Homo sapiens: one gene and its partners. The protein of the gene in region 1 interacts with the protein of each later gene in a pairwise test. Each region holds a gene or a part of one and is shown in the gene's direction. Other genes may lie near its edges. The genes, in order: MAL, JAML, CXADR, AMHR2, GSG1L, SYNDIG1 and NKAIN4.

The links.
Region 2: the proteins of MAL (region 1) and JAML interact in binary tests that used the Homo sapiens proteins (3 or more experiments, as listed by UniProt).
Region 3: the proteins of MAL (region 1) and CXADR interact in binary tests that used the Homo sapiens proteins (3 or more experiments, as listed by UniProt).
Region 4: the proteins of MAL (region 1) and AMHR2 interact in binary tests that used the Homo sapiens proteins (3 or more experiments, as listed by UniProt).
Region 5: the proteins of MAL (region 1) and GSG1L interact in binary tests that used the Homo sapiens proteins (3 or more experiments, as listed by UniProt).
Region 6: the proteins of MAL (region 1) and SYNDIG1 interact in binary tests that used the Homo sapiens proteins (3 or more experiments, as listed by UniProt).
Region 7: the proteins of MAL (region 1) and NKAIN4 interact in binary tests that used the Homo sapiens proteins (3 or more experiments, as listed by UniProt).

The regions. Positions count from the first base shown.
Region 1 is NC_000002.12:95,031,698-95,036,099, forward strand, and holds part of MAL (myelin and lymphocyte protein), read left to right. Parts: intron 1-4,402. UniProt on the Homo sapiens protein: May be involved in vesicular trafficking from the Golgi apparatus to the cell membrane. Plays a role in the maintenance of the myelin sheath, and in axon-glia and glia-glia interactions.
Region 2 is NC_000011.10:118,200,536-118,204,937, reverse strand, and holds part of JAML (junctional adhesion molecule-like isoform 1 precursor), read left to right. Parts: intron 1-1,272; coding exon 1,273-1,510; intron 1,511-4,325; coding exon 4,326-4,402. UniProt on the Homo sapiens protein: Transmembrane protein of the plasma membrane of leukocytes that control their migration and activation through interaction with CXADR, a plasma membrane receptor found on adjacent epithelial and endothelial cells.
Region 3 is NC_000021.9:17,567,491-17,571,171, forward strand, and holds the end of CXADR (coxsackievirus and adenovirus receptor isoform 1 precursor), read left to right. Parts: 3' UTR 1-2,610; downstream 2,611-3,681. UniProt on the Homo sapiens protein: Component of the epithelial apical junction complex that may function as a homophilic cell adhesion molecule and is essential for tight junction integrity.
Region 4 is NC_000012.12:53,429,514-53,433,074, forward strand, and holds the end of AMHR2 (anti-Muellerian hormone type-2 receptor isoform 1 precursor), read left to right. Parts: coding exon 1-112; coding exon of another isoform or gene 113-132; intron 133-317; coding exon 318-465; intron 466-632; coding exon 633-769; intron 770-1,663; coding exon 1,664-1,960; 3' UTR 1,961-2,159; downstream 2,160-3,561. UniProt on the Homo sapiens protein: On ligand binding, forms a receptor complex consisting of two type II and two type I transmembrane serine/threonine kinases.
Region 5 is NC_000016.10:27,822,316-27,826,717, reverse strand, and holds part of GSG1L (germ cell-specific gene 1-like protein), read left to right. Parts: intron 1-2,802; coding exon of another isoform or gene 2,803-2,856; intron 2,857-4,402. UniProt on the Homo sapiens protein: As a component of the inner core of AMPAR complex, modifies AMPA receptor (AMPAR) gating.
Region 6 is NC_000020.11:24,587,553-24,591,954, forward strand, and holds part of SYNDIG1 (synapse differentiation-inducing gene protein 1), read left to right. Parts: intron 1-4,402. UniProt on the Homo sapiens protein: May regulate AMPA receptor content at nascent synapses, and have a role in postsynaptic development and maturation.
Region 7 is NC_000020.11:63,244,085-63,248,486, reverse strand, and holds part of NKAIN4 (sodium/potassium-transporting ATPase subunit beta-1-interacting protein 4), read left to right. Parts: exon of another isoform or gene 1-711; coding exon 712-909; exon of another isoform or gene 910-1,631; intron 1,632-1,728; exon of another isoform or gene 1,729-2,603; coding exon of another isoform or gene 2,604-3,680; exon of another isoform or gene 3,681-4,402. Other genes in the region: uncharacterized protein LOC124904950, read right to left, coding at 2,604-3,680.

The DNA.
Region 1 (4,402 bases):
TGGCCAGAATGGGATGGTGGCTGAGTTGGCCTTCTCTGACTGTGTCCACTGGCTCCTGGCTCTGTCCCTTCTCTGTAGCTATTTAGAGAGGGCTACTGCCTGATCTTCCGTGTTTTCTCCTCTCTTCCTCTCTAAAGGGAGGAGAAGTGTTCTAGACAGAGATTTCACAGGGGTTTGGTGGAGAAGTGACTTTTCTGGTTTTTCAAGACCAGAGGCTGGCTTTGGTGAGGACTCAGTAACTTTGAGCTGCTCCCTGGAAACTGCTAAGTGTGATGATGGGGCTCATCTCCACAGGATTGTCAGACATGTGTCATCACACCTGAGCTATATTTTAAAAGATTGCCTTTTAGCTTTTCATAAGTCACTCCCCCACCTCACAGGGATGGGGCAATGCCAGAACTGGTGCAAAGGCACCCTTTCTGTCCCAGTGCTTTCAGAAGTGAGTAGGAAGCCCCACGATGCTGCTGCCAGCAGCGCTCACACTCAGGTCGGCCAGGGACAAGGGCTGAATTTTGCACCTATACTCGCCACACCAGCAGGCGAGGGGCAGAGCATATTGTGCTGCCAGCACAGACTAGCTCTGCACAGCCTTAGCAGTGGCTTGGCTTTGTCCTGGGCCCAGACACATTCTCCAGAGAAGGGGCTGGGAGTAGGGACTGGACCACCTGGGACCTGCCTTGACACAGGACAGAGCCAGCCAGACTTGAACTAGAAGGGGCTGGGGGCTGACTTAAGCCACTCCAGGGCTTCCTCCTGGCCCCTCCAGTGTCAGTGCCGGACATGGTGCTTTGGACCAGCAGGCCTCAGGGACAGGTGCTGATAGGACACCCCAGAGGGTGTACCCTCCTGGTGTTGATGGGTGTGAGGACAGTGGGGGACTGTGCCCCTTGTCCTTGAAGCAGGAACGTTCTGGGGTGTGTGGCCAGCTCCTTCTCACAGCTTTCAGATTGTTCCCAAGGGCATGGAGCATGGAGCAGGTCCCTCGTGGTCTCTCATCAATTTGGAAGGCTCCAAATTGCCTTTGACACCCTGGTGAAAGGTTTGATACCCAGTGAGCTCCTAGCTGGGCATGAGCAGTGTAGCCATTTCCCTTCTTGGGGTCATGAACGTGCCACACTCTGCTTCTCTGCAGCACTTCTCCCCAGGCTCTCTGCCGCTGCTACCTCATTCACAGCTAGTGTTCTATGCCAGGATTGGGTGAATCATTTTAATGTACCCGGGCCCTGGGTCCTGCAAAACATATGTAGGAAATCAAAGGAAAGCCTGTCACCAGCCACAGCACCTCCGCAGCGGGAAGAGAAGGTGCAGGGTCGCACAGCCAGCCTCACTGACCTGCAGTTCCTGGCCACAGCCTCCAGTCCCTGTGAGAATGCAGTGGGCTGGGAGGGGAGGGGCTGGAAGGGCAGGGGGAGGAGACAGAAAGTGAAGGTCCCAGAACCAACTTGGAGGGAGGCCCACGGGGGGCCCGGGAGGTGGGCACTCCAGGAATAGGGCCACGGGGAAGGACAGAAGATGACGTTCCCTGACCTGTCAGTGGAGTGGGGCGGGTGGGGTCTGCATGGCAGCCCCTCCCTCTTCTTCAGACTGAACTACAGGCCTGCATCTGCCGAAGAGGGAGCGGGATCCTTTGGCATTTCATCTTGTGCTGTATGTGTCTTAAACACAAACCTTGCTATTGTTTTCCTCTGAAGAAACAGAGGATATTGAGACTCATTGTTTCAGTGGCGGGCCAGGGAGGGAGAAGCCGGCTGGGAGTGGCCTAAAGACTAAGTGGTTATTCGCCACTTAGTTAACATGGAGGAGGCTCCATGTTAACGCGCCTGTAATCCTGGCACTCTGGGAGGTCAAGGTGAGAGGATCACTTGAGGTCAGGAGTTTGAGATCAGCCTGGGCAACATAGCAAGACCCCATTTCTACAAAAAATGTAAACAATTAGCCAACTATGATGGCTTGCACCCATAGTCCCAGCTACTCAGGAGGCTGGGATGGGAGGATTGCTTGAGCCTGGAGGTCAAGGCTGTAGTGAGCTGTGATCGCATCACTGCCCTCCAGTGTGGGTGACAGAGTGAGAACCTGTCATCAAAACAAAAATCTCATGGCCATTTCCAAAGCTGACCCTAGACACAAGAGGTAACTGTCACACCCATGGGGGCCTGGATCTGGGCCTCAGCCAGCTCATCAAAGGAGCACCCGGCAGCTGTGGGAACGTGGGCAGGTAACTGTGCCTCAGTTTCTGCATCAGTAAAATTTGGACATAGCAGCACCTGCCTCACATAGCTACTGCCCCATAGCTATCAAGTGCTGTTATTATTAGTTGACTAATAATTTAAGCATCTGCTCTGAAACCAACTGGCCGACCTGTGCCGATGGCAGGGTCCGCAAGGCCCGCCCCCATCACCTTTGCCATAGGTGCCCTCTGTTCCATTCTCAGGCAGGTGCTGCATGAGGATTGGGATTGGGCCAGGCTGTGGAGGGCACACTTGACTTTTCCCTGGAGTCACCGAGTCCTGCACAGACACCACCTTCCTGGGGCCTTCCCAGTGGCTCTCCTCTCACCAAGAAGGAACAACTGAGGGCAGAGGTCAGTGTGTCCTCAGCTAAGAGCTTGATGGAGCAGCCAAGGGGTGGAGGACAGTGTGGCAGCCCCAGCCTGCCTTCTGCCCAGGGAGCAGGCTGCTTTCTAAGCCTCTCTGCATCACCCTGCCAGCCTGGTGCCAAGATGGGCAGGCAGAGCTTTGTGGATTCTGAGTGTGACACATAGCTACATCTGCCCGCAGGCGTAGGAATGAATTATCAGCAGGCTCAGATTAAAGCTTTCAAAAGCGATTTGTCATCAGTGTCAGTGTGTCGGCTGTATGCAAGGGCATCAGTTCAGGGAGGGGGCAGCCTCTGGCAAAAACCTGTGCCCTCACCTCCCCCAGCCTCCATCCTGGCCCCCAGCTGCTTGGCAGGAGGGCATAGTTGGATTGAGGGGCCTGGCAGGAAAGGAACCGCCGAGCTTATGGGTCTCAGGACTATTTCTAAAACCAGCCACAGACCTCCTTCATCTCCATCTGTGGTCAGGTTGGGGGCAGCAGTGGGAATGCTTCTTTGTTGGAGGTGACCCTTTAGGCCCGAGCTAACCCATCCCCTCCACCGGGAAGCCCACCCTTCTAGCACCCTTTCCTGGCACTCAGAGCACATCCTGCAGACCTTTGCTTATTGTCTGTCTCGTGCCTACACCCTAAGTCTGCCCACATCCCTGGCACAGATCAAGAACTCTGAAACATTTGTTCTCAGCAAGCATCGGTAGGGAAGGGGCTCGGGTCTCCTCTCTCACCTACCTAACACTGATGAATCATAAGATGAGTCCTTGACCTCAAAGGCGGACAGAGGGTGAAACTGACAAAGGCTGCCAGTCCCCAAGAGACTCTGGGAGTTCCATCTCCCTTGGACCCTCCCAGACCCTGGGCGGGCAGCCTTCTGTCGCCTCTGGCAGGTGTACACCTGTTTTGTTGGTTTGTTCACATTACTAACCTACCTGGTGACTCCCATAAATCCCTTTTGTTTTTCTTGCATTTAAGCCACTCCTGTCTGGTCCAGCATTTCCACGGATTTTGCCTTTTACAGGTGGCTTACCCAGTATTTTCACAGAACCTCTTGGTTTCTGTTTATCCTGCTGGGTAAGGCCAGCAGGTGTAGATGTGGTAGGCAGAATTTTCCATTCAAATGAAGACATGCCTATCAGAAAGCCCCTAGATTTGTGGATCTGAGAGGAGTTTTTGTGCATTCAGGAACTAGTGACCATCCTCTAGCTCATGAGGGAGGTGGGTGTTAAGTCAGCAGTCACTTTGTCCTGCTGGCAGCGTGTGCTATGGGAGAGGCTTCCCTGGGGCTCAAGGGGGGTGAGATTGCAAGCCTGAACAGGGGGCTCTTCCCAGTCCAACTTGCCTTGTTAATATAAACTATGGCCCTCCACTCAGCTCTTAGATTTTTTTTTTTTTTTTTTTTGAGACAGAGTCTTGCTCTGTCGCCCAGGCTGGAGTGCAGTGGCATGATCTCGGCTCACTGCAACCTCTGCCTCCTGGGCTCACGCCATTCTCCTGCCTCAGCCTCCTGAGTAGCTGGGACTACAGGCGCCCACCACCACACCCGGCTAATTTTTTGTATTTTTAGTAGAGACGGGGTTTCACCGTGTTAGCCAGGATAGTCTCAATCTCCTGACCTCGTGATCCGCTCACCTCAGCCTCCCCAAGTGCTGGGATTACAGGCGTGAGCCACCGTGCCCAGCAACAGCTCTTCGATCTTTTAATCCCAAATCTCTATCCCCTTCTTCACAAACTGATCCAAACCCGCTGAGTCCTGCTCTTGCCTTCAGATTAGATAAGGAACACTGTCTAAGGCTAGCTGGGGGTGATGATGG
Region 2 (4,402 bases), on another chromosome or scaffold:
CACTTCATTCATGTTTGTGTCTACACACCCATTAACTTTTCTTAAAAGCTTTAAAAAAGCAATCTACATGGCTTTTTTTAATGCCAATATTCATTTAACAAGTTATTTTTAAAGAATCTGCTATATGAAGAATACTTAAAGCCCCAGTCCTGATGGGAAACTTACAACCAAGATGGAGGAGATACATGTAAAATAATAAAGACGTATATAATACATCAGGCAATAGTAAGAGCCTACGGGGAACAATAAAGCAGGACTTTGTGGTTTTTGTTATGTGGGTGCTTGGGGAGCCCTCACTGAGATGACATTTGAGGAGAGGGAGTGAACCCTGCATATGTGTAGGGGGAAGAGTGTTCTTGCAGTCATAGACAGTAGCAAGTGCAAAGGCCTTGCAGCCAGTATGCAAGGAGCAGCCAAGAGGTCCATGTGGCTGGAGCGCAGTGACCCAAGTAGGTGAGGGAAGAGCAAGTAGAAGTTGAAGTCAGAGGTAAAGGGAGATGGGCTGGGTCATGCAGGGCCTTGCATTTTAGTAGAAATGGGAGTGGGGGCCATGAAGGGTTTTGAGCACAGGAGTAACATGATTTAACTTACATTTTTAAAGGCTCATCTGCTGAAAATAGATTGTCATAGAGAATAAGCAGGGAGACAAGTAAGAAAGCTGTTGCAGGAATCTAGGTGAGAGATGAGCTGGACCAGAATGGTATCAGTGGAGGAGGTGAGGACTGGCTGGATTGGGGATATATTTTGAAGGTAGAGGTGATAGGATTTGCTGAGGGATTCAATGTGATTTGTTCCAGAAAGACAGAAATTAAGGATGACTCCAGGATTTTTAGCCTGAGTATCTGGAGGAAAGCATTGCCATGTACCAAAATGGGATGGACTGGAAAGAACTGGTTTGGGGGAAAGATGAAGAGTTCAGTTTTAGACATGTTTCAGGTTCCTATTGGAAATCCAACTAGAAATGTCATCAAGAATAAAAGTATACTTTTGCTTTTTTTTTATTGGAAAGGTGCACAAAATGAAAGTCCTCCTTTTCTTATCCCTCCATTCAGATGGAAAAACTGTTCATGGTTTTGTGATGTCCTTCACAAGTACACACGCATGCACATGTGTGTGTACATGACTTTGTGTTATTTAATGCTTTCTGATAATACCCTTACTGCCTTCACCTAGCAGGGCCTTGGAGTCCTGAGATCTTCCCTCCCCCATTTTCTCTGCTCCCCGCTCCACTCCAGTCCTCACAATATCATACTTTTTGTCTTTCACTTCTAGGAGGAGATTGTATTTCGTTACTACCACAAACTCAGGATGTCTGTGGAGTACTCCCAGAGCTGGGGCCACTTCCAGAATCGTGTGAACCTGGTGGGGGACATTTTCCGCAATGACGGTTCCATCATGCTTCAAGGAGTGAGGGAGTCAGATGGAGGAAACTACACCTGCAGTATCCACCTAGGGAACCTGGTGTTCAAGAAAACCATTGTGCTGCATGTCAGCCCGGAAGAGCCTCGAAGTATCTAACATTTGGCTGGGGAGCATTGAGGGACCTCCTGGCTGGTGCATGGCGCCAGGACTAGAGTGAGGCCGGAGAGGTTCCTAGGATGCAAAATTGAAGGAGGCATCCCTCTCAGGTGCTGACTCTGGCCTTGCACAACCCTGAGAATGATGCCTCCTTAGAGGTGGCTCCTCAGGTGCCTGGCTTGCCTCACCCTAGTTCTGGCCCTGCTGCTAGGCCAAGGGGAGGGGAGCTAATTTAGTGAATACCAATCCTCTGCCAGACCCCACTCATTGCCAGGGTCATCTACTGATGTAAAGATACAGAAGCTCAGGGAAGGATCGGAGTTGATGTCCAAAGTCAGCATACTTGGTTTCAAGGGAGGTGCTGTATGTGTTAGAGTGGAGCGGGAAATGATCCTAAGCTAGTGAGAGACAGCCAGGAACAGAGAGGAACATGCAGGCACCAGAACCAAAAATGGAGGGTTTTCTGATCAGAGGTTCTGGATTCTGGCAAACAGTGTGCATCAAGGCCAGTGCTGTGTAGGAGAGGAAAGACTTGATTGTGTTGACAGAGAGAGGTTGATAAGTGAGGGGTTAAAGTTAAACCATAACCCAGTTAGCAATCAGGATGTGGCCTGTGGACTTTGCCTGTCGCTAGGGCCTTCAGGAGTTGGCTGTGGTTGGCTGGGGGTGGGGAAGATGGGGTGAGGATGGAACATACCTCATACCTCAGGCCAGAGACCTAAGTCTGTGGAGGCACCTTGTCTCCAGCTGGAGAGGGGAGCACGGCAGGTCTGTGTGCTTCCTTCTCAGAAGTCCAATTCACAGAGAAAATCGAGCCATTATGGGGGCTCATGCAGCTTCTCCACCCACAAACATATCTATGTCTCCCCCATTCTTATCTCTGCCCTGCCATCCTGAGGCAGAGGAAGGTCCCTTCTGCTCTGGGCTTATCTGGCCCCCTGTGCCCAGGTGGTATCCTTCTCAGGAACCTTACAACATGGCTCTTTGAGCTCACTTTCTGTTGGTTTCTACCATTCAATGGATACGTTTGCTCAATTCTACTACTTAATTACTCCAGCTCCATTCTATGTCTTTTTTTCTTCAGCTCCATTCTGTGTCTTTCTTTTTCTTAAGATTGTTTTCCTGAGATACAATTCACATACCATACAATTTGCCCATTTAAAGCGTTCAGCTCAATGGTTTTAGTACATTCAGAGTTGAACAACCACCACCACAATCACGTGTTTCTTTCTCAACATAGCCAAATAGCTTGCTAAAGGTCTGTGTTTGGTATCTTACTGTCTCATCTCCCATTAACTCCTCAGTGCACTGCATTCTGGCTTATTCTACCTCTACTCCAGCTTAGATCACCAATGGCACTGCAATTATCCATCCTCAGCCTTCTCTCCTTCAGTAGCATTTATATGCACTCTATGTTGGACACAGTTCCACACACACCCATGGATATACTTAGTCAACTCTACACAAGTTTTCCACAAATCCTTCATATGCAACATGTCTAACCTACCCCTGCACACCCCTCCTCAGCCCATCTCCCCAACCTCAGTTGTCTAACTAGATGCCTGGGGGTGTGCTTGATTCTTTCCCTTTCCTAGACCCCTAATCTAACAGGTCAGGTCAACAAGTCCTTGACTCCTACTACAGACTCTTGAAGTTGTCTTCCTTCCAGTCTGTCACTGCCGCCTTAGTTCTGGCTGTCTTCATCTCTGTCTTGAACTGTAGGCCTCTAACCAGTCTCTGCTTTCTCTCTCAGCCACTGCTCCTCATTCTTCACGCGGCTCTTGGTGCCATCTTTCTAAATCACATTAAGAACTTTCTCTTCCACTGCTAATAATCTTTCAATGTTGTTTTCATTGCCTGCAGAAAAATGCCAGATTCTTGGTTGAGATAGTCAAGGTCCTTCCTGACTTGGACCCTGTCATCTCTCCAGCGAAATTCTCCAGCACACCCACAAATGCCACTTTTGTGCCAGACCCGTTGAACTCTTTCTAGTTTCTAAAATCATCATCCTGTCAGGCCTCCAGATCTCATGCAGAACATCCCCTCTGTCCTTCTCCATATTGTCTTCCCAACAAACTGGATGTTTCCTGTAAGTCTTAGGTTAAACTTTAGAACTTTTGCTGGCAAATTCTCACTTGCTGCATATAGAATTGGACACCCTTTTTTCTGTGCCCCTCTGTTCCCCATACAGACTTCTGTTGTAGCGCCTACAGCAGCCTGTGGTTTTCTGTTGACGTGTTTGTCTTCTTCCTTGGAAGCAGGGACCACACATCATCATTCATCTCTGAATCCCCTGTACCTAGTGCTGTCTGGCCCTGAGGAGGTGTTTGCTTTATGTATTTAGAAAGAACCATGCAGATGAGTAGAAGGTTCCATATGGGCAGAAGTACCTCCGGAGGCTTTACTTGGTATCGTCACTGTGGGGCTGAGTCTTGCGGCATGAGTTCTTTTGAAGACAACCACTTGCCCTAAGGAAGATCAGCAGCCTCTCAAATGCCTGTTATTTCTGGGTCCTTGTTAAGCCAAATTTTAGAATAGAATTGTTGATGTGAAAGGAAACTTTACTAGAGGTGAACTGCTAGCCTCTTCTCCCACCCACCTTAATCTACATTTTAGGGTAAACGAGGGGGTTAGACTTTGGTTCTCAATCTCATGGAGACAGTGTCCCTAGTGTCCAGATATGGGGTGGAGTCTGGCCTTCCCCTCCGCTTCGTGGCCTGGCTGGTGCTACTTGGTATAGGGCTGTGGGGCTCTCAGCTCTTTGCTAAAGTATTGAGACCCTCTCCTTGCTTTTCTACTTTCCCAAGCACTGGTGACCCCGGCAGCCCTGAGGCCTCTGGTCTTGGGTGGTAATCAGTTGGTGATCATTGTGGGAATTGTCTGT
Region 3 (3,681 bases), on another chromosome or scaffold:
GAAGGTACTGTTTCTAAAAACACATCACTGTGATACCTTTCTATCCTCACATTTTCAAGCTTGCCTCTTTTCTGTTCTTTGTGGATATAACTTAAGCAATTGTGTTATTCATAAAGGTTTAGAAATTTCAATATTCCCAACACTCTATGTTTCTGATTTTATAACAGTAGCCATTTTTGAAAGTCAGATGTTTGGCCTGTTTTATATGAATAAAGTTTATTTATAAAATATTATAAAAAATAAGTAAATAAACAGAACATTAATAATAAAGTTTTGGTTCTTCCTATTCCTGACTTTCATATAATGAAAATTATCCTATTGATCTAAGTAGAAGTTATCATAGAAAGTGGACACGTATAAGACTTTCCTTCCTTTTTTTTTTTAATAACATATGAGGAACAAGACTTCTCTTCCCATATACTTCATATTTTAGAGGACATTGTTTTAAAGGCTTATGTCTCACTGTAAAATTCTGTCAGCCAAATAGTACCAATACGTTTTCAAGTAGTTCTCACTGATAATTTAGTTGAACCAGAGATCAAATATTTGCTCCCGAATTACTACTGGTAATCAAGTAGTTGAACAAAAAATTACTAAAGCATTTCCGTTAGATCAGTCAAGGACAGTACTGCATCTTTTTTTTTTTTTTTTTTTTTAAGACGGAGTCTCGGTCTGTCACCCAGGCTGGAGTGCAGTGGCGGGATCTCGGCTCACTGCAAGCTCCGCCTCCCAGGTTCACGCCATTCTCCTGCCTCAGCCTCCCGAGCAGCTGGGACTACAGGCTCCCATCACCACGCTCGGCTAAGTTTTTGTAATTTTAGTAGAGACAGGGTTTCACCGTGTTAGCCAGGATGGTCTCGATCTCCTGACCTCGTGATCTGCCTGCCTCGGCCTCCCAAAGTGCTGGGATTACAGGCGTGAACCACTGCACCCGGCCCAGTACTGCATCTTAACAGCAAAGCCATTTTATTCTACTTTATAACTGAGAGACTTGATACCATCCATCTCTTTAGGTTACAGAGGATAATTTGAAGAGAAATGTTACTGTAGAATATATAGTTCTGTACTTTTTTTTTTTTTTTTTAAGAGATAGGGTTTCACTATTGCTCAGGCTGGTCTCAAACTGCTGGGCTCAGGAGATCCTCCTGCCTTGGCCTCCCAAATTGCTGGGATTACAGGTGTGAGCCGCAGCATCCAGCCAGTTCTGTACTTTGAATATGGAGTAGTTTACAGCTATTTTTTTTTCTTACTGGTAATCTTAACTAATATGATTCCCTTGTTAGAGAGCCTCTCACTCCCCCACCCCCAAAAATGTCTACTATTCATGACAGTAACCAATTATTCTGGACAAATTGCTTCTTTTTAATTTGAGCTATCTGCCATGGACTTTCTAAAATGGAAACACAGCCTGAGTGTATCTTAGGGAGAGTTTGATTGAAAAAATCCAAATCACTATCCATATAGATCATGGATATAAAGAGATACCTGATTTTTATTAAAAAGATACTTTTTCAAATTTAAGAGTTAATCTTGGAAATTTGGAACAAGTAAAGGGGCAAGTAAACCTTTTGATGAAATATAAAAGGAACTCATTGCATGAAGTTGACTATCAAATTCTGTGATGTGTGGCTTCTTAAAAATATTCTCAGTGTCTTTTGTGTGCGTGCAGCATGTACATTTGATGTTATGTGAATGTTGAGTTTTTTCTTCTAATTTTCACTTCAGCAGTGTTTAGGGCTTTCAGATGCCTTATTCCAGTGTGAACAGAAAAAGTTCATATTTTATGTGGTTAATGCTTTGATGTGTCACATAAAGAGTAGTTTGTAGAAAATGTTGGCACAATTTTAACTTCTTAGTGGCTTGTGACATTATATATTATATATATATATGTACATATATCTTTATAACATTCCTGTGTTTAGTAGTGTAAATGTTCTGGGCAAGTTTTAATATTTTGAATGCCTTTGGATATTCCAGCAATAAAGGCATCATGTTCTGCAATAGGATTTCTTACTCATTTACCTATTTTAACACTAAAATAGACCACAACTGAGCACAAATTCCTTTTATAAATGTTATAGAAGCAGGGAAGAATAATAAACACATTTGTGAATTGTGGTTCAGTTTATTTATCTTTAGGGAAGGCTGATCATTTATCTTATAGCAGATAACCCCAGCCTCTTATTCATTATGGTTAACTTTTATAATTTATCTTATTTTATAATTTAAGAATATAGTACATATCAGTTGGGTTTGGTTTTGGTCATCGAGACTAAAAGCTCCATCAAAACAGAACTTTGTGTTTTCTGCTAACTTATTTAATGACACAAGTTTTAAGAGAACCACAATTCATTGATTCACTTATTCTTTTCCCTAATTGTGAATTTTAGTGATAAATACACCTGTACTACTGAGGAAAATATTCTGACACTTCACGTGTGCAAAGTATAGAACTGACAGTGTCAGTTTCAGATTTTGTATGTACGATTTCTGGCTTATATATCCAATGGTGCAGATTTTGAAATTTGTAAGAACAAAATTTGTTAAGAAAAACAACTTGCTCTAGTTTTGTGACCTTGTGTACTTTTGAAATAAAATCAAGAAAGCAGTTCTCTGCCTCATGGTGTGGCTTTATTGTGCCTTTTATACAGTGTCCACTAAAGCTTTAATATTTTATTCCTCCCTGCTTGCTGTGTCATGGTTTCCTTCCCCCCGTGTATCCTCTAAACAGAAAGAATAAAGATTGCGACAATCATATTAATACATCATTGAAAACATGTCAAGCATACAGACCATTATCTCCCCATTCCTGTGTGCTTATATAACAGTATATACTATTTGGGGTTGAAACCTCCAACGTTCTGTGATCATTTCAGAATTTACAGTATAAACTCAAACATTTTTCAGATACATTGCCCAATGTGTGTATATATACACAGATATGAGGATGGGAAGTCAAAGATCAAGGCACTGGCAGATTTGGTGTCTGGTGAGAGCTTACCTTCTGTTTCAAAGATGGGGCCTCTTGCTGTATTCTCACATGACAGAAAGGAGGAAAGGGAGCTTCCTCTAGCCTCTTTCATAAGGCCATTAATGCTATTCATGAGAGTGGAGTCCTCCTGACTTGATCACTTCCCAGAGGGGCCCCACATCTGAGTGCTATCACGTTGAGTATTAAGATTTCAGCATAATGGTGAGATTTGGGCTTCTGGCTAATAAAATGTATATCAACATGAGAATTTTAGGGAGGCACAGATATTCGAACCAAAGTAACATCTCGTTATGGCTTAAAGTATTTTCATTCACTGTAAATGTTGATTTCAGGAAAAACCAGAATGGGATGTTGATGCTACTTTAAGAAGCATGTTGAGGAATATTGTGTTTATACTAGGGTTTCTCAACCAGCACTATTAACATTTTGGGCTGGATAATTCTTTGTCGTAGGGGACTGTCCTGTGCATTGCGAAATGTTTGGCAGCACCCCTGGCTTCCACCCGCTGGATATCAGTAGCACCCTGGTCCCCGCCACCACAGCATCCCCACCACAGTTGTGACAATAAAAAGTATTTCCAAACATTACCAAATATCTCCCCTGGGGTCGGAGCCAAATCGCCTCCTTTTGAGAACCACGGATTTATACTGATGTGAAATTTTCTACTCGGCGATTAAAAGGTGAAGAGC
Region 4 (3,561 bases), on another chromosome or scaffold:
AGATGGATCGTGTGCCATTGGAGACCTGGGCCTTGCCTTGGTGCTCCCTGGCCTCACTCAGCCCCCTGCCTGGACCCCTACTCAACCACAAGGCCCAGCTGCCATCATGGAAGTGAGTTCTCTGGATAACTGGTGAGGCCCAGGATGATGTTGGTGCTGCTGATGGCAATGCAGCCATTGTGTGTCAACAGTTGTAGCAATACCTATAGCATTTGGGACATTGCTGAGTCTGTAGTTGGGGGGATATTGCATGGACCATTGCTGCAATGAGGATTGCCACAGAGATGATTCTTGGCCCTTCGTGCCTTGCTCTCCAGGCTGGCACCCAGAGGTACATGGCACCAGAGCTCTTGGACAAGACTCTGGACCTACAGGATTGGGGCATGGCCCTCCGACGAGCTGATATTTACTCTTTGGCTCTGCTCCTGTGGGAGATACTGAGCCGCTGCCCAGATTTGAGGCCTGGTAAGGATGGGTGGTACAGTCCCCTCTCCTGGGCTCCCCCCCGCCCATTCTAGGTTCACCCCAACCTGACCTGGCCTGAGAAAGCTCTGCTCTTCCCTGTCTTGCCCTTTCTACATGGTAGGCACCCCTAGGACTAACTGATACCCAGCCCCTCTACCTTCCTCCAGACAGCAGTCCACCACCCTTCCAACTGGCCTATGAGGCAGAACTGGGCAATACCCCTACCTCTGATGAGCTATGGGCCTTGGCAGTGCAGGAGAGGAGGCGTCCCTACATCCCATCCACCTGGCGCTGCTTTGCCACAGTAAGAGGCCTAGGCTGTTGGTCTGGGAACCTGGAGAGTGGGGGCTGGGCATGGGCTTCAAGGACGTCTCTGCCAGAGTGTCTGTCTACTCCTATCTCCACTTATCTCCCATCACTCCTTGGTTCATGCTCAGCTGGAACTGGGCAAGCCTCCTCTCCCCGTCAGTTCATCCTCTTCCACCCTAAGTCTCACACAGTCGATTCCATCTACCTGAGACACACACCTTCCTCCTGCTCAACCTTGCCCAGCCTGTCTCTCCTCTCTGCCATCAGTTAGCCCTGTTCCTCAGTCCCCTTCTCCAGGAAGCCCTCCTTGGCTTTGCTCTTGCCCTGAGCTCTGCCCCATCTGCTCTCCTAATACAGTAAAGCCCAAAAATCAATTCAATAAGTCCCCATTCTGTCATACATTGATGATGTTTCTGCTGTGACCCAATAAAAGGCAGTTCTAGGTATAAAAGGTGAAAGCAGTGGCGTCACAGTGAAAGTTCAGGGCTTTGCACAAATACTTTTTTAACAAAATGTCCCTTCTGTACCTGATCTGAAATTTCCACGGCACAAGTCTTAGGTTGGCTGACAGAAACTGGGCATTACTTGCAGAAGACTCTGGCTCTCTGAGAGGAAAGAGAGTAATTTCCCATTAGCATATTAAGCTGTCAACCTACATTAGCTCCTCAGAGGAAACAGTGGGCTATACAGAAGGCCCCCAGAGAGCCTGTTTCATAGGGAGCAAGACTCAGAGGGCTGGAATTCAGCAAGAGGGAGAGGAGGGAGGCTCCAGGAAAGATCAGAAGTGGATGTTGAAAGCAGGAGAGTGATGGACACTGAAGATGGCTTTTAACCCTGGGGCCCACTCAAGATCCTAGGGTCAACCCTTCCTCCCTGTCATTCCCCCCAGGACCCTGATGGGCTGAGGGAGCTCCTAGAAGACTGTTGGGATGCAGACCCAGAAGCACGGCTGACAGCTGAGTGTGTACAGCAGCGCCTGGCTGCCTTGGCCCATCCTCAAGAGAGCCACCCCTTTCCAGAGAGCTGTCCACGTGGCTGCCCACCTCTCTGCCCAGAAGACTGTACTTCAATTCCTGCCCCTACCATCCTCCCCTGTAGGCCTCAGCGGAGTGCCTGCCACTTCAGCGTTCAGCAAGGCCCTTGTTCCAGGAATCCTCAGCCTGCCTGTACCCTTTCTCCTGTGTAAATATGCAGTTTATGTGTCATCAATGTACATGCCAACATAAATATGGCGATTGTATAGCTGTCTTGTCTGCCTCATCACTGCATTTCCCACCTGCCGAATCCTTGGATTCTTCTGCGGGCATCCAGTCCACATCAGTTCTGACCAGTGACTTGGGGTAGGTGTGCACAGGAAAGAGAATAAAGTCAGCTTTCCTGATGCATATCCTTGGTCCTTCCTCTATTCCTGTAATCCAGGGACCCTCTTGTCTCTCTTCTTTTCCACTAACATTTATTTTTATTTATTTATCTGGTTTCTTTTTTTGGAGACAGAGTCTCTGTCCAGTCTGGAGTGCAATGACACGATCACGGCTCACTGCAGCCTTGTCCTCCCTGGGCTCTTGTGATCCTCCTGCCTCAGCCTCCTGAGTAGGAGGGACCACAGGCATGGACCACGATACCCAGCTATTTTTTTTTTTTTTGAGACAGAGTCTCACTCTGTCACCCAGGCTGGAGTGCAGTGGCACAGTCTCGGCTCGGTGCAAGCTCCGCCTCCCGGGTTCACGCCATTCTCCTGCCTCAGCCTCCCGAGCAGCTGGGACTACAGGCGCCCACCACCACACCCGGCTAATTTTTTTTATTTTTAGTAGAGACGGGGTTTCACCCTGTTAGCCAGGATGGTCTCCATCTCCTGACCTTGTGATCTGCCCACCTCGGCCTCCCAAAGTGCTGGGATTACAGGCATGAGCCACCGCGCCCCACCTGATTTTTTATTTTTTGTACAGGTGAAGTCTTGGTATGTTGCCCAGGCTGGTCTCAAACTCCTGAGCTCAAGCAGTCCTCCTTCCTCAGTGTCCCAAAGTTCTGGGATTACAGGCATGAACCACTGCACCCAGCATTTTAAATTGTTTATTATTTTTTAAATTTTATTTATTTATTTATTTAGAGACGGGGGTCTTGCTCTGTCGCCCAGGCTAGAGTGCAGTGGCACGATCTTGGCTCACTGCAAGCTCCGCCTCCTAGGTTCATGCCATTCTCCTGCCTCAGCCTCCTAAGTAGCTGGGACTACAGGCGCCCGCCACCACGCCCAGCTAATTTTTTTGTATTTTTAGTAGAGATGGGGTTTCACCATGTTAGCCAGGATGGTCTTGATCTCCTGACCTTGTGATCTGTCCGCTTCAGCCTCCCAAAGTAAATTGTTGATTATTTTTATTTTTATTTTTGAGATAAGCTCTTGTTCTGTTACTCAGGCTGTGATCATAGCTCACAGCATCCTTGACCTCCTGGGCTCAAGCGATCCTCCCAGCTCAGCCTCCCAAGTAGCTGGGACTACAGATGTGTGCCACCACACCTGGCTAATTTTTGTATTTTTTCATAGAGACAAGGTTTTTCCATGTTGCCCAGGCTGGTCTTGAACTCCTGGGCTCAAGCGATCCACCTGCCTAGGACTCCCAAAGTGCTGGGATTACAAGTATGAGACACCACACCCAGCCTCAACATTTATTTTTAAAGGTGGGATCTCATGGTGGGCACTGGGGAAAGAAGGGTAAAGACAACAAAATCACTGCCCTAACAGTGCTTAAAGACCTGCACACCACATTGTTGGGTTCCTGTACGCTGTCCTGG
Region 5 (4,402 bases), on another chromosome or scaffold:
GTGGGTGTTGGTGGATGAAGACCCACCTTCCCACCCTTGGGTGCAAAACGGCCTGGGGCACGCTCTGCCATGGGACTGGTCTCCAGGTGCCCTTAGCAGGGATCAGCCTTTATCACATCCTCTGCTGGCTCCGTCCCTTCCCTGTCGCACTTCCCTTCTTCCCTACCCATAGTTCCTGGGACCGCCTCCCCTCAAGAAAACTACCTTTACCCAAATCCTTATCACAGGGCCTACTTCTGGGGGAGCTGAAGGAGATGGGCATTAACACCTTTCAGTGGCAGGAAGGCATCACTGCACATCCTCAGGGCTCAGCAGAGGACGAGGACGAGGAAGGGGACAGGAGGCTGCAGGGTGGGGCAGCAATGAGGAGCTGGACTGTCTGTGGGGCCCTTGGGAGGGTTTCAGTCAGAAGAGAAGCATGGCAGCGCATGGGGTGAGGAGACCCACACAGGTACCCTGACTGTAACAGGCCCCTCTCTCAGCCTGCCACTGTGTCTTTCCCCAGCCACATCAGCCTCCTTTCCATCCCTCAGGCACTCCAAGTGCGTCCCCACCTTGGGACCTTTCTACTTACTGTGCCACGGGATGCTTCCGTGAGGCCTCTCCTAATCACTGGGTCTAAACACACACTCCCCACAACCTTATCCTAGACACTCTAACCCATTGCTATTTTTTATGTTTTGGAGACAGGGTCTCACTCTGTTGCTGTATTAGTCGGTTCTCATGCTGCTAATAAAGACACAACTGAGACTGGGTAATTTATCAAAGAAAGAGGTTTAATTGACTCACAGTTCAGAAGGGCTGGGGAGGCCTCAGGAAACTTAGAAGTATGGCAGAAGGGGAAGCAAACACGTCCTTCTTCACATGGCGGCAGCAAGGAGAAATGCCGAGCAAAGTGGAGAAAAGCCCCTTATAAAGCCATTAGATCTCATGAGAACTCCCTATCATGAGGACATTATTAGGGGTACTGTCCCCATGATTCAATTACCTCCCACTGGATCCCTCCAATGACAGATGAGGATTATGGGAACTCCAATTCAAGATGAGATTTGGGTGGACACAGCTAAACCATATCAGTCACCCAGACTGAGTACAGTGACACAAGCACAGCTCACTGCAGCCTCGACCTCCTGGGCTTAAGTGGTCCTCCCTCCTTGGCCTCCCAAGTAACATGTGCCACCATGACTGGCTAATTTTTTCATTTTTAGTAAAGATGGGGGCCTTGCTATTGGTTGTCCCAGATGGCTTCAAACTCCTAGCCGCAAGCAATCCTCTGACCTCAGCCTCCCAAAATGCTGGGATTACAGGCATGAGCCAGTATGCCTGGCACCATTTCTATTTTTTCATAGCACCTGATACAACCTGCCAGGATTTTCTTTATTTGTTTGCCAGTTTGCAGACTGTGAGCTCTGGGATAGAAGACCTATGCCGTCTTGTTTCCCACTGTGGACCAGGAGCCTAGAATTGGGCCAGGCACCTACTAGGAGCTCATTCAGGGTTTTCTGGTGATTGACTAGACTCTTGTCTTTGGAGGCCTCAGCCCTGGCTCCCTCATGCTCTTTTATTTCCATCTCCACCATCATCTCGCTGATTCAGTGCCCCAGCACTTCCATGCCAAAGCCCCAGGAGAGAGGATGTGATTGCTCGGTGTAGGTCAGGTGTTCAATCTCGGGCCAGGCAGCAGTGGCCAGGAAGATCCGGCTAACCTGGCATGCGGCTCATCTCGTCCCAGGCTGTGGATGGTGGCAATGCCCAGCATGGCACAGGGCCCGAAGTGGGCACTCAGCAAGTGTTTGCAATAGACACATAAGCAGCCAGATGTCCAAAGCTGCCCCATTAGCACTGCGGTCAGTTGCCACCCCTGCTACGGAGATTCACCTCCTTGGGCATCTGTGGGTAAAACACACCTCATTTTGCTGAGGCAGAAGACAAGACCTCTCCGTACCCCATCAACAAGAAGCTGCTGTTTGCTGGTGCCCCAGTTCCAATGGCTCCTAACAGCTCAGCCCCAAGATGAATTCTTCCCAGCATATGTGCAGAATATCACTTTACACATTCATAACTTGAACATTATGCAGAGGTTCATCAAATTTTATTTCCCTTCCCCTCTGAGGAGAGCATTTCAGCTTAGCCAGGCTGTTCTATTTCTTTTCCTTTTTTCTTTTTTTTTTTGTGCTTTCCCTACAAAGAGCTCAGAGCACATAGATGTCTGCATAGGTTTGCAGGATGGCTCAGATGCAGGGCTGACATCTTACAGTGGCCAGCATCCTTGGAGCCGCAGCCAGGAACTCAAGGGAGGGCGATCCATGGCCCCACCTGCCCAGGTTTCCTTCTCCTCCACGGGGGACAGAGGGTGCTGTGGAAAGAGCAGGGGTTTGGAGTGAGTTTTCCAAATCTATCTCTTTGCTGCTATGTAATTTGGGGTGAGGCGCTGAGCCCCTTTGAGCCTGTTTCCTGTGACCCAGGATGGGAGAATCCAGAGCTCTTGGTGTCTCAGGGAGGCTCAAATTTGAAAACCCATGTGACATGCCGCGCCAAGTGCCTGGCACATGGAGGGCTTTTTGTGTGTGAGTTCCTGTCCCTTCTGCTCCTAATGCCCTCACCAGACCCCAGAGTGAAGCATGAGCTTGGTCATGACCAGCTTAGGATGGAGATGGCGAGGGTATTTCGAAGCATGGCTGATAATCTCGTTATTATCTGTGGCCCTGTATAAGGCTCTCCTCTAAATACCTCAGATGTGACTCAGTTAATTTCTGCGATGCCTTTCTATGTGTAAGTGTTATTGTCACCTCCATTTTACAGGTGGCAAATCGAGGCACAGAGAGGGAGGGCGACTTGCCCCAGGTCACACAGCTGGTAAGTGCCAGAGCTGGGATTTAAGCCCAGGCCACATAGTCCTTCCCTGTGCTGTGTGGCCTCTCAGGCTTGATCAATTATCTCTGCTGGGTATTGAGCTAGGACCTGGGCACACAATGAGAGTAAAGGGAGTCCCATGGCTGAGGAGTTCATCGCAGGAGGGGCAGGTGAGGTGAGAGACAGACCGTGAGTGGGTTTCTGGTATGATGCATTCTGTGGGACAGAGCTCATGGGCTCCCTCACGCCCCCACGTTTCCTATCTGTGGGAGAGGGCTTTCTGGAGCCCATTTCATCCGAGTCTTTCCTGCTGTCCTCCTGGAGACCAGCGACAAGGTAGTGCCCTGCGGGGGCTGATGGACAGGAAGAAATTAAACTGTCCCTTTCCCACCCCTACCCCCACCACCCATGTCCTGTTGGATTACCCTCTGCAAGAGCCGACTGCATGGCTGAGGAGCAGTTGGGCAGATTTGAAATGGTGTTCAGCGCTGTCGAAGAAAGGCGTATTATGTGTGTGTGTGCGCGTCTGTGTGCGTGTGCGTATGCATGTGCACATGGTCATGTGGAAGGACCAGTATGCACATGTGTTGGGTTTGCTGGATTGGAGGGCCTGCACCCCCCAATTCCTGCCCCACCCCTGAGAAACATCTGGAATTAAACCCTCCCAGCGTCACCCTGCCTGTCGTCCCCTCCTTCGTCTTAATCGGGCCTCCCAAGGGGAGGGTCAGATGCTGCTGAATGAAAGGTAAATATTTGCAGATTGGGGCTTTCTTGAATACTTAATGCTCAGATCTGGTTTAACAATGTGTGGAAGAAAATCAGACCTGTTGGATTGGATCCCAGAGGGAATTCAGCTGTGCCAAACAAATGACCCGCCTCACTTGGGAATGTGGCACTGTGTGGGGGACGGAAGCCCCCGGAGCTTTTTGGGAGGGCAGATCTTCCTTCCTGGGACCCCTGCACCTCTCTCTGTACCACTTAGGACTCTCTGAAATTACTTGTTTATTTATTTTCGTGTTTATGTCTGGCCCATTTCGGTGCACACTCCACGAGAGCAGGGAGCCTGCTTTTCCTGGTTACCACTCTGTCCCTGCACCTAGAACCACAGAGGCCCAATCAATTACGGTATTAATTATTAACAATATTAGGCCAGGCTCGGTGGCTCACGCCTGTAGTCCTAGCACTTGGGAGGCTGATGCAGGCAGATCACTTAAGTCTAGGAGCTCGAGACTAGCCTGGGCAACATAGCAAGACCCTGTCTCTACAAAAAAATTAAAAGATTAGCTGGGTGTGGTGGCATGTGCCTGTGGTCCCAGTTACTCAGGGAGGCTGAGGTGGGAGGATCACTTGAGTCCGGGGGATCAAGGCTTCAGCGAGCTATGATGGCGCCGCTGCTCTCCCACCTGGGCTACGGAACAAGAACCTGTCTTGAAAAACCAAACCAAACCAAAAAAACATTAATTCTATTGTTAAGTATAGTAGAAAGTTATGCAGTGCCTCCTGTTGCAGACACTGTTTGAGCGCCTGGCTGACTTCATGCATTCAGCCC
Region 6 (4,402 bases), on another chromosome or scaffold:
CCGGCAGCTGCCAAGGAGAGAGTGTGGCACAGAATAGAACAGATGCAATCTGAGAATCCTTGCACTAAATTAAATCAGTGCTTTCCTAAGCGAGGCCAGCTGGGAGTGCGAAGCCCAGGACTGGAGAGGGGGAAGCCCGGAGCCCTCTCTGCCGCAGTGGCCAGCACATCCTGCTGCCTTGTTGGGTCAAGGGGATGATGCACCTGGGCAAAGAGCATGTTGGTGGAGCTGAGGCTCTCCAGGCCCTCAGTGCCATTCACAAGGAAATCTTTGACATCTAAGTGTGACTTTGGGTTTTTTTTCCCTTTTATCTCAGATCATATCACAGTGTACTCACTGACAGTCAGGCTGTGTCTGCTCATTGTCAAAATAACTGTTCAGTGAAGTCAAAGGAACATGCCAAGCCATTACAGAAAAACAAAACAACATCTTATGGTGGTCTGATTAAATTGGGCAGTGGAGAAAATGAGGGATGCCATCTCTAGAATTATGCACCTCCAGTATGTTGTTTTGTCCTGTTGTAGCCTGGTCCCATTTAGCAGGCAGCTCTCCCATGCCTCTGTTTCCTGACCCATACAGTGATGTTAAAATGATTTCCAGGGTGTGCGGTTAGCTGAGGGTTAGAGATGAAGGCCAGTGAAAGTTCCCAGGAGGCACCTGCAGAGCAGCTGCTGCTGGTCGTGCCCTGCTGGAAACCTGAGTTCTCCAGGTGCTGGGGGTCCAGAGGCCAAGGAACACCTGGAAAGACACAGACACACCTTTCCCAGCAGATTTTGCTAATTCTAAAAATATGTTCATGAAGTAGCATAACAGTAGTAATCAAAGTGTTAGTGAGGTGGGTAACATTGGCTGACCACCTACTGTGCGCCAGGTTCAGCGCTGGAGCCATGCACCCTTGCTTCCAGGATGTGGTCCTGGACCCCCTAGGCACTTGCTAGAAATGCACACTGTCTGGTCCACCACACACCTGCTCAGTCAGAGTCTCTGGGGCAAAGCCCAGGAATCTGCATTTTGAGGAGGCCTCCAGCTCCTCATGGATGCTGCTGCCATCACCCGGGAGGGGCCGTGGTGACCTGTGCTGCAGTCTCGGCTGGGAATCTAATAAGAAGTGGGAAGCTGCGGGATGTCTTTTGGAAGAAATGACCCCTGGGCTTTGGTTGTGGTGTGAAAGGAAGAGGGAAGGGAGGGATGCCCTGGGTTCTGATGTTGCTCGGTTGTGAATATTGCTGTCTTACATGCATTATCTCATAGGAACTCCATGACATGGGTGCTGAAATCAGGGTTCAGTGAGATTGAGAGATGTGCCTAAAGCCAACATTGGTGAGCAGTAGGCTGGAGCTAGCAGGATGTGCAGGTTCGGAAGCACCTGCCTTCTCTGGGGGAGGCATCTGGCTTGTCCCTGAGCTGTGGGGTGGGGGTGGGTGGGCAGATGAGGGCAGCATGTTGTCTACAACTTCATTTTGCCCAACAATGTTCCATCCAGCCCCCATTGCAAGCACGCTTTGTAAACCAGTTCATACAGAGGAGGATGTGGGTGTGTGCGATTAGGGTGGTGTGGCTTCATCTAGGAACTGACATTTGTGAATGATACTGAGGATAGACATGAATCCCATAATTGGCTGAGTGGCTGCTGTCAGCTAGTTAATGCACACACTTTATCTTATTTAATCTTTGCAGTGAGTCCAGAAGGTGGAAAATTATTATCTCCATTTTACAGATTAACAAAACTGAAGTTTCAAGGGATTTAATAAGTAACAGAAATCACAGAGGTAGCAAGTATGGGCACATGAGGGAAATATTAATATTTCTAACCCTTAAAGCCATATTTTCTGCAATGTAGCTTTGACTTTTATCTGTTTGCAAATGAAAATAGAACCACAGTCCTTGCTTCTAAATTCACCATCCCCCCACCCTGCTTGGAAAGGCTTGCAGGGGAGGAAAGCCTGTCTGAGCATGGTGTGGCATTGGTCTTCATGGCACTTCACTCCATCCCATGTGATGGGGGCAGCCGGGGACCAAAGCCAGATCCCTGCCCCCAAGGTGGGCATTGGGCCTGGACCTGCGCCGGGCAGGCCCGAGGGTTCCTGTGTTGACTGTGCTGGCAGATGTCTTTGCATCCAAGCATTTATTATGTCTTGATCTAATTTCATTTCATAAAATGTTTCTTTCCTTTACTAACTGCAACATTATAACAATAATTAAATGAGAAAAGGGTATTAGGAAGCAGATTATGAATTTTATGAATAGTACCAGCAAAGGGAATTGGGCAAACTAGGGGAAAAAAGAGAATCTTTTTATGGTACTGAAAATCTAGAAGAGTGCAACCTAGCTAATAGCAAAGCCCCTTGGAATCCATTCATTTACCCACTGATTAGTGAACACCTCCCACGTGTTCAGTAAGTGCCAGGCATGCAGCAGTGAACAGAGCAAACCAAATCCCGCTTGTCAGAGCTAACGTGCTCGTCGCCTGCCTCTCTTCCTTGCAATGTCAGCTTTACTTTTCTCCGTTTTACTCACTGGCTATTAGCTGCGGATGGACATGGGGAGCGTGGAACTGGGAGAAACGTTTTTAACAGGGTGGCCGTGGCGGGGCTCGCGGAGAGGATGGTGTCTTCTGATAAAGCCGCCAGTTGAGCCAGGGGGAGCCCTTGGGGAGGAGCTTCCAGACAGAGAGGCCTGCAGTGCCGAGGCCCTGGGGGGAGCACGTGGGGCAGGTGGGGCCGGCGCGGCGGGGCTGGGGGCCGCGGGTGTGGAGTGGGGAATGGGGGTAGGGGTAACTAACAAGGCGGGGCCAACAGGGGCAGACCCCGAGACTCTTTAGGCTGTGACCGAGCGGGGCTTCCACTTTGGGATAAGAAGCCTCGGGGGTTTGAGCGGAGGAGAAGCCCCTGTGGCCACATGCTCCCGGGAGCCTTCAGAGAACAGGGCGGAGGGGGAGGCGCAGGGCGACGACGGCAGTGGTCAAACGCAGAACCGTGGAGTCCTGTGCTGCAGGAGTGGCTGGGAATTTCATAAGCAGTGGGGAGCTGCGGGGTGTCTTCTGGGTGAATGACCCCTGGGCTTAGGTTGCAGTGTGAAAGGAAGAGGGAAGGGAGGGATGCCCTGGACCAGGGGTTTCCTGCAGCCGGATAGGCAGCACCTGCAGCGGGGCCTCTCAACTCCAGGAGCTGTCGGCCTCTGCGTGGAGGCACTGAACCATGGGGGCTCCAGGGAGACGTCTGGGCCGAGGGTAGGAGTGTAAGGCCTGAGCTGGGGATCAAGCACCGGCGCGGTGATGAGGGGCCCGTGGGAGCATTGACCGCTGATGAGCAGCTTCAGGCATGCAGGGAGGGACAGCACCGAGGAGCGGACTCCAGAGCAAGAGGAAGGGAACCATCCAGCGATGCAGAGCTGCACTGCTGGGACTTGGATCAGCAGGCACAGCAGAGGGGCGCGGAGGGACTTGTGGGTGCTGGGGACATTCTCTTTCCTGACCTGGGTACTGGCTGTATGCTTGTGGAAACTCATTGAGCTTTATTTACACCTTCGTGTGTGTGTGTGTGTGTGTGTGTGTGTGCACTTTTCTGTAAGAATACTATACTTCAATTAAAACATTTAGAAAATGCACGTATTTGGGAGGCCTAGGGAGAAGAACTGCTTGAAGCCAGCCTGTGCAACAGACCCCATGTATACAAAAATTTTAAAAAAAAAAATTAGCTGAGCGTGGTGGCTCATGCCTGTGGTCACAGCTAGTCATGAGGCTGAGGCAGGAAGATCACTTGAGCCCAGGAGTTCAAGGCTGCTGTGATCTATGATCCCACCACTGCACCCAGGCCTGAGTGACAGAATGGGACCTTGTCTTTAAATATACATATGGAAGTGCAAAGAGAGTAGCTGAACATAGTACATCTAGTTATCTTTTTTTTTTTGAAGAGTTTTGCTGTAAATGGAGAGTGAGAAATGGGATGCTATTTAATGAGGTCATGTCAAGAGTGTTCTTTTGTTTTTTGTTTTTGCTTTTAAGTGGGAGAAATGATAGCATACTTGTTCATAATGAAAATGACCCAAAAGAGAGAAAAATAGATGTTGTGAAATACAGTGGGAAGGAGAATGGGGGGACAGTTAGGGGAGCAATAAAAAGCCCCCAAGCACCTCGCACATAGTTGACATCACACACTTCTTGGGGCAGATGCAGATGAGGTATTAGGCTGCGAGAGTCATGTAGCTGTTCCCAGGTCATGCTTCCAAGGGTAGAGCCAGGATTCGGTGCCCCCACCATCAATGCCCACTTCTGGGTCAGTGGTCAGTGATTATGTCACTTAGTGACAGATTCCACCAAATACTGCCCAAGTGTTAGAGGAAATCATAGTCTTGCTTTTCACATTACAAATACCCACATAGGGAAGAACTATAGAAGTCTGAT
Region 7 (4,402 bases), on another chromosome or scaffold:
CGTGGGGTCCTTTGTCCCAGCCCGACCAACCCTCCAGGCTGGTAAAGCCTCGTGCCTCCTGCAATGCAGGGAACCAGGGGAAACGTGGGGGGAGGGGGTGGGAAAAGGCCATCGCTGAGCCGACCCTGACCGAGGCTGTTCAGGGGAAACAGGGTGGGGGCCATTGCTGAGCCCACCCTGACCGAGGCTGTTTCAGGCACTTTGCTTACAGCTCAGAGGGTGGTCCTAAAGCCAGGGTGGATGGATTTTGGTCTCCCCCAGGGGCTCTCTGCTCTGGCCAGTGTAGCACAGGTGGGCACTGGGGCAGGTGCCCAGCCAGGCAGACGGGCCCCCGCTTCCTGGAACCACACCTGGGGCTGCAGCCGGGAAGACTGTCCCGAGGCAGACACACGTCACATGGCAGCTTTGGCCAGCGACACGAGGAAGGGGCCCGGTGCCCCTGAGAGCGAGTTCTGGGGTCTGGGCAGGGAGGCCTTCCTGGAGGAGGAGGTGTGTGGGTCGAGGGCAGGCGCAGGAGCGGCTGGGAGGGCCTTGGTATTCCTTTCCCCACCATGGCTGGAGCCCTGGGGGCGGGGTGCAGTGGGAGGACAGGGGAGGTGAGAGGACAGGACCTCCCCTTGCCTCGGTGTGGTGGCGTCCCCGCAGGCTGCAGTGGGTGAGGCCGCCCACCTCCTGGTGCTAACCGGCCCTGCTCCTGCACCTCTCCCCTAGGACAGCGAGCTACTGACCTTCAGCCTCTCCCGGCATCGCTCCTGGTGGCGTGAGCGCTGGCCAGGCTGTCTGCATGAGGAGGTGCCAGCAGTGGGCCTCGGGGCCCCCCATGGCCAGGCCCTGGTGTCAGGTGCTGGCTGTGCCCTGGAGCCCAGCTATGTGGAGGCCCTACACAGTTGCCTGCAGATCCTGATCGCGGTGAGCGTGGGGAAGGGGGCCCCCGGGTGGGGATGGGTTGATGGGGGAGGGGACATGGAGCTGGGGGCTCATCTCCCTGAGGCGGGGCCAGCTGACCTGGCCTCAGGCGTGTCTCTGCCTTCCTCATCCCCCACCCTTGCTGGAGAGGTTAAGGTATCACGGGTGGGTCCCATGTGGCTGGCACCTCAGTGCCTCCTCTGCAAACCACCTCCCCCAGGCGGGGCCAACCCAGGCGCTTTCTCAAGTTGAGCGTGGTGTTTGCTGTGGGGAGTGGGAAGGAATCGGATCAGGCCGAGACACCCCGCCTCTGGCTTTGACGGCCCCAAGGAGGAGGGGCATGCATCTTCCTGACAAACCCATCCATGCGTGTCCCGCCTGTTCCCTCGGCTGCCCCGAGCCCATGCCGGTCACAGGAAGTGGACAGAGCCTGAGGCTGGGCTGGCAAGAAGCCCCTCAGCCTTGTCGGGAACCCTGGCGTATGCATCTGGCAAGGCTGGCGCCACGTGACCCAGGTCTGACCGGACAGGGATTCTGTGGCCCCGGGTGGCGCTGAGGAGCAGCTGTTGCTTGTGCGGGAACGGGACTCTGCCGTCCTCTCCGGCCCTGCACGGGTTGGTAGAGAACAGGGGCTACGATGCTGCTCCTGGTATGGCCACACGGCCACTTCCCCGCTGTGCCGCCTCTGTGAGCCTAACAACCTCCGTGTGCCTCAGCTCCCGCCTCTGTAAAATGCAGATGGTGTCAGTGCCTTCCTCGAAGTGCTCAGAAAGAGGCAAAAGCTGAGGCGGGTGTGTGGAGGGTGCTCGGTCAGCGTTTCACCTCAAGAGCTCCGGGGGCAGGGCCAATGTGACTGCAGCACGGCTGGTGCCGTCGCTGGAGGAACTTCTGACCGATCTCGAGGCTCCCTGGCTTTTCCTGGTGCGCACGGTGGTGTCGACGCAACACACCAGGTGGACCTGGGGCTTCCAGGAGCGAGGCTCCATGGCCGGCGGCTGGCGGTGGGAGCTGAATTCCAAATCTAAGGAGCCCGTGGCCTGAGCACACGTGACGGTGCGGGTGGCCTCGTGAGCTCCCGGGGCTCCTTCCTGGGCTCTGCTCTGGTCCTGCAGGAAATCAGGCCAGGAAGGTGCTGCCCCATAGCAAGGGGCCACAGACGCACCCTGCCAGCTCCAGTCGGGGCCTGTTTCTCCCACCAAAGCCAGTCAGCAAGGCACAGAGGGGGCCCCAATTGCCCCCAAAATGTGTGGAACCCAGGTGCCTGCCACTGGAGGAGAAAGAGCCAATTTCCCAAGTGTGCACATCAAAGCTCCTGAGATTAGGCTTTGTGAGGAGGCAACAGAAAAGAAGCTAGGCTGGGTGCGGTGGCTCACACCTGTAATCCCAGCACTTTGGGAGGCCGAGGCAGGCGGATCACGAGGTCAGGAGACTGAGACCATCCTGGCTAACACGGTGAAACCCTGTCTCTACTAAAAATACAAAACAATTAGCCGGGCGTGGTGGCGGGCGCCTGTAGTCCCAGCTCCTCGGGAGGCTGAAGCAGGAGAATGGCATGAACCCGGGAGGCAGAGCTTGCAGTGAGCAGAGATCACGCCACTGCACTCCAGCCTGGGTGACAGAGCGAGACTCTGTCTCAAAAAAAAAAAAAGGAAGCTTGAGGGGAATGAATGAAGAGTCTCTCGGAGGGGGCTGGCGTGCTATGGGAGCCGAGGCTGGAGGAGTGGGCACTCTGCATGGTTGGGGAGATGGGGCCTCCTGTTGGCTTTTATCCTGACTCCCAGGGATGGGAATTTCTTTGATAGGATGTAGTTTCTAAATTCCAGCCAGCTAGTCCTCGCTAGGATCTCGCCCCTGCTGTTTGCTTTGGAGGGTCTGGGAGAGGCTGGCGGCTTGGTTGGCCTCTGCCCAGCTGTGCTGGGGATGGAAATGGTGGTGGCAAGAGAGTCGTCTGACAAGGCCAGGCTCTGGGGGTTGGGGTGCGGGGCCTGCAGATCCCAGGCCTCCATGCAGCAGGGAGAGGGGAGAGCTTTGGGGTGGACCTGGGGCTGGAGCCAGGAGGATGGGCAGGAGGCGGTGGTGTGCAGGGCGGGGAGCATGGGGGTGTGGGACAGAGGTGGCCTGCAGGTCCCCAGGCAGGAGGGCACCGGCTGGAAGGGGCATCTTCCAATGGCTCCCCAAGCTCGGCTGCCTGTTCGGCGCCACGGCCAGCTCCGGGATGGGGGCGTCTTGGGCTCCTTTGGGGTGAGGAGGGGGACGAGCCGTGGAGGTTGCCCACCCTCACCGCTGCTCCCACCCTGGCCGTGGCATGGAACCAGAAATGGCCATTTGGGACAGCTTCTTGAGCTTGTCTCAATATCAAGGAGATAGGTCTGCCTGCTTGGTGGTAAGAGAGGTCTCCTGGCCCCTGACTGACCCCTAGAAAGGAGCTGGATTTCCAGGAAAGCAACCACCAACTTGCCTGTACCAGATGGGGTCGGGGGTCGGGGGGACGGAGCCCAAGCATGTCCAGCCCTGGGGCCTGGCCTGCGTGTCCTGTCTCCTCTCCTGGGCACGGTGGCCTTCACGGGGGGCTGTTGGGCCAAGTCTATGGAGGAAGAAACCAAGACCAGAAGATGAAGTGAATTTTTGGGGTCACCCGGCTGCTGAGTGGTTGGCCTGAGGTGCAACCAGGAAGGTTTCCTGCCTCGTTCCGGGGTCCCTCCAGTCACAGACCCACTGCCGCCTCCCTCGGTGTCTGTGGCCTGGAGTGCCCCTGGCCAGGCCCTCTCGCTCATGCTGTTGGTGTTTCTGGCTGCGGCAGCACTGCCCCCCCTTTGCCAGAGCCCTTTTTCCCTCAGTGGCCCTGGATGCAGGTGTCTGCGAGGTGTGTGGGGCTTTGCAGCGGCCTGCCCTCTGCCCTGGACTCCCAGTCCCTCCCCTCTCCCTGCCTGACCCCTGCCCCAAAGGCAGCAGCCAGCCCCCAACTCTGCCCGGAGTTGCCCGCTGGACCCCGAGTCCTCAGCCTGTCTCTCCTGCACTTTGCCGGGCTCAAAACCAGAATCCCAGATGGCTTGCTCCACAGAGGAGGAGGAACCCCTGGTGGCTGCTGGCTGGAGTGGGCTGGGGCCAAAGGCAAGAGGCCCGAGGGGACGCAGGGCTGGGACTGTGCTGGCCTGGGGTTCATCCAGCCTGGGCTTCTGTGTCCTCACCCCGCTCCCTGCAGCCACTCAGGCTGACCTGCTCATCTTCCCCACCCAATATCCATTATCCTCACCCACCTGCCCCCTACCCAGTTGAGTGGGGTGGGGTGGAAGGCAGGGGTGCGTCCGGAGCTTGAGAGCTGAGGATACCCACGGGTCAGCTCTCCCACTCCAAGTCACAGAGGAGGAACCTGAGGTCCAGGAGAGGCAGGGCCTTGGTGGTCAGGGGCGCTCCAGTGCTTCGGCCCACATCGCCTCAATGACACCCCACAGGCTCGCCTGGCCGCACTCACGCCCCTGCCTGTGGTGTCTTTCAG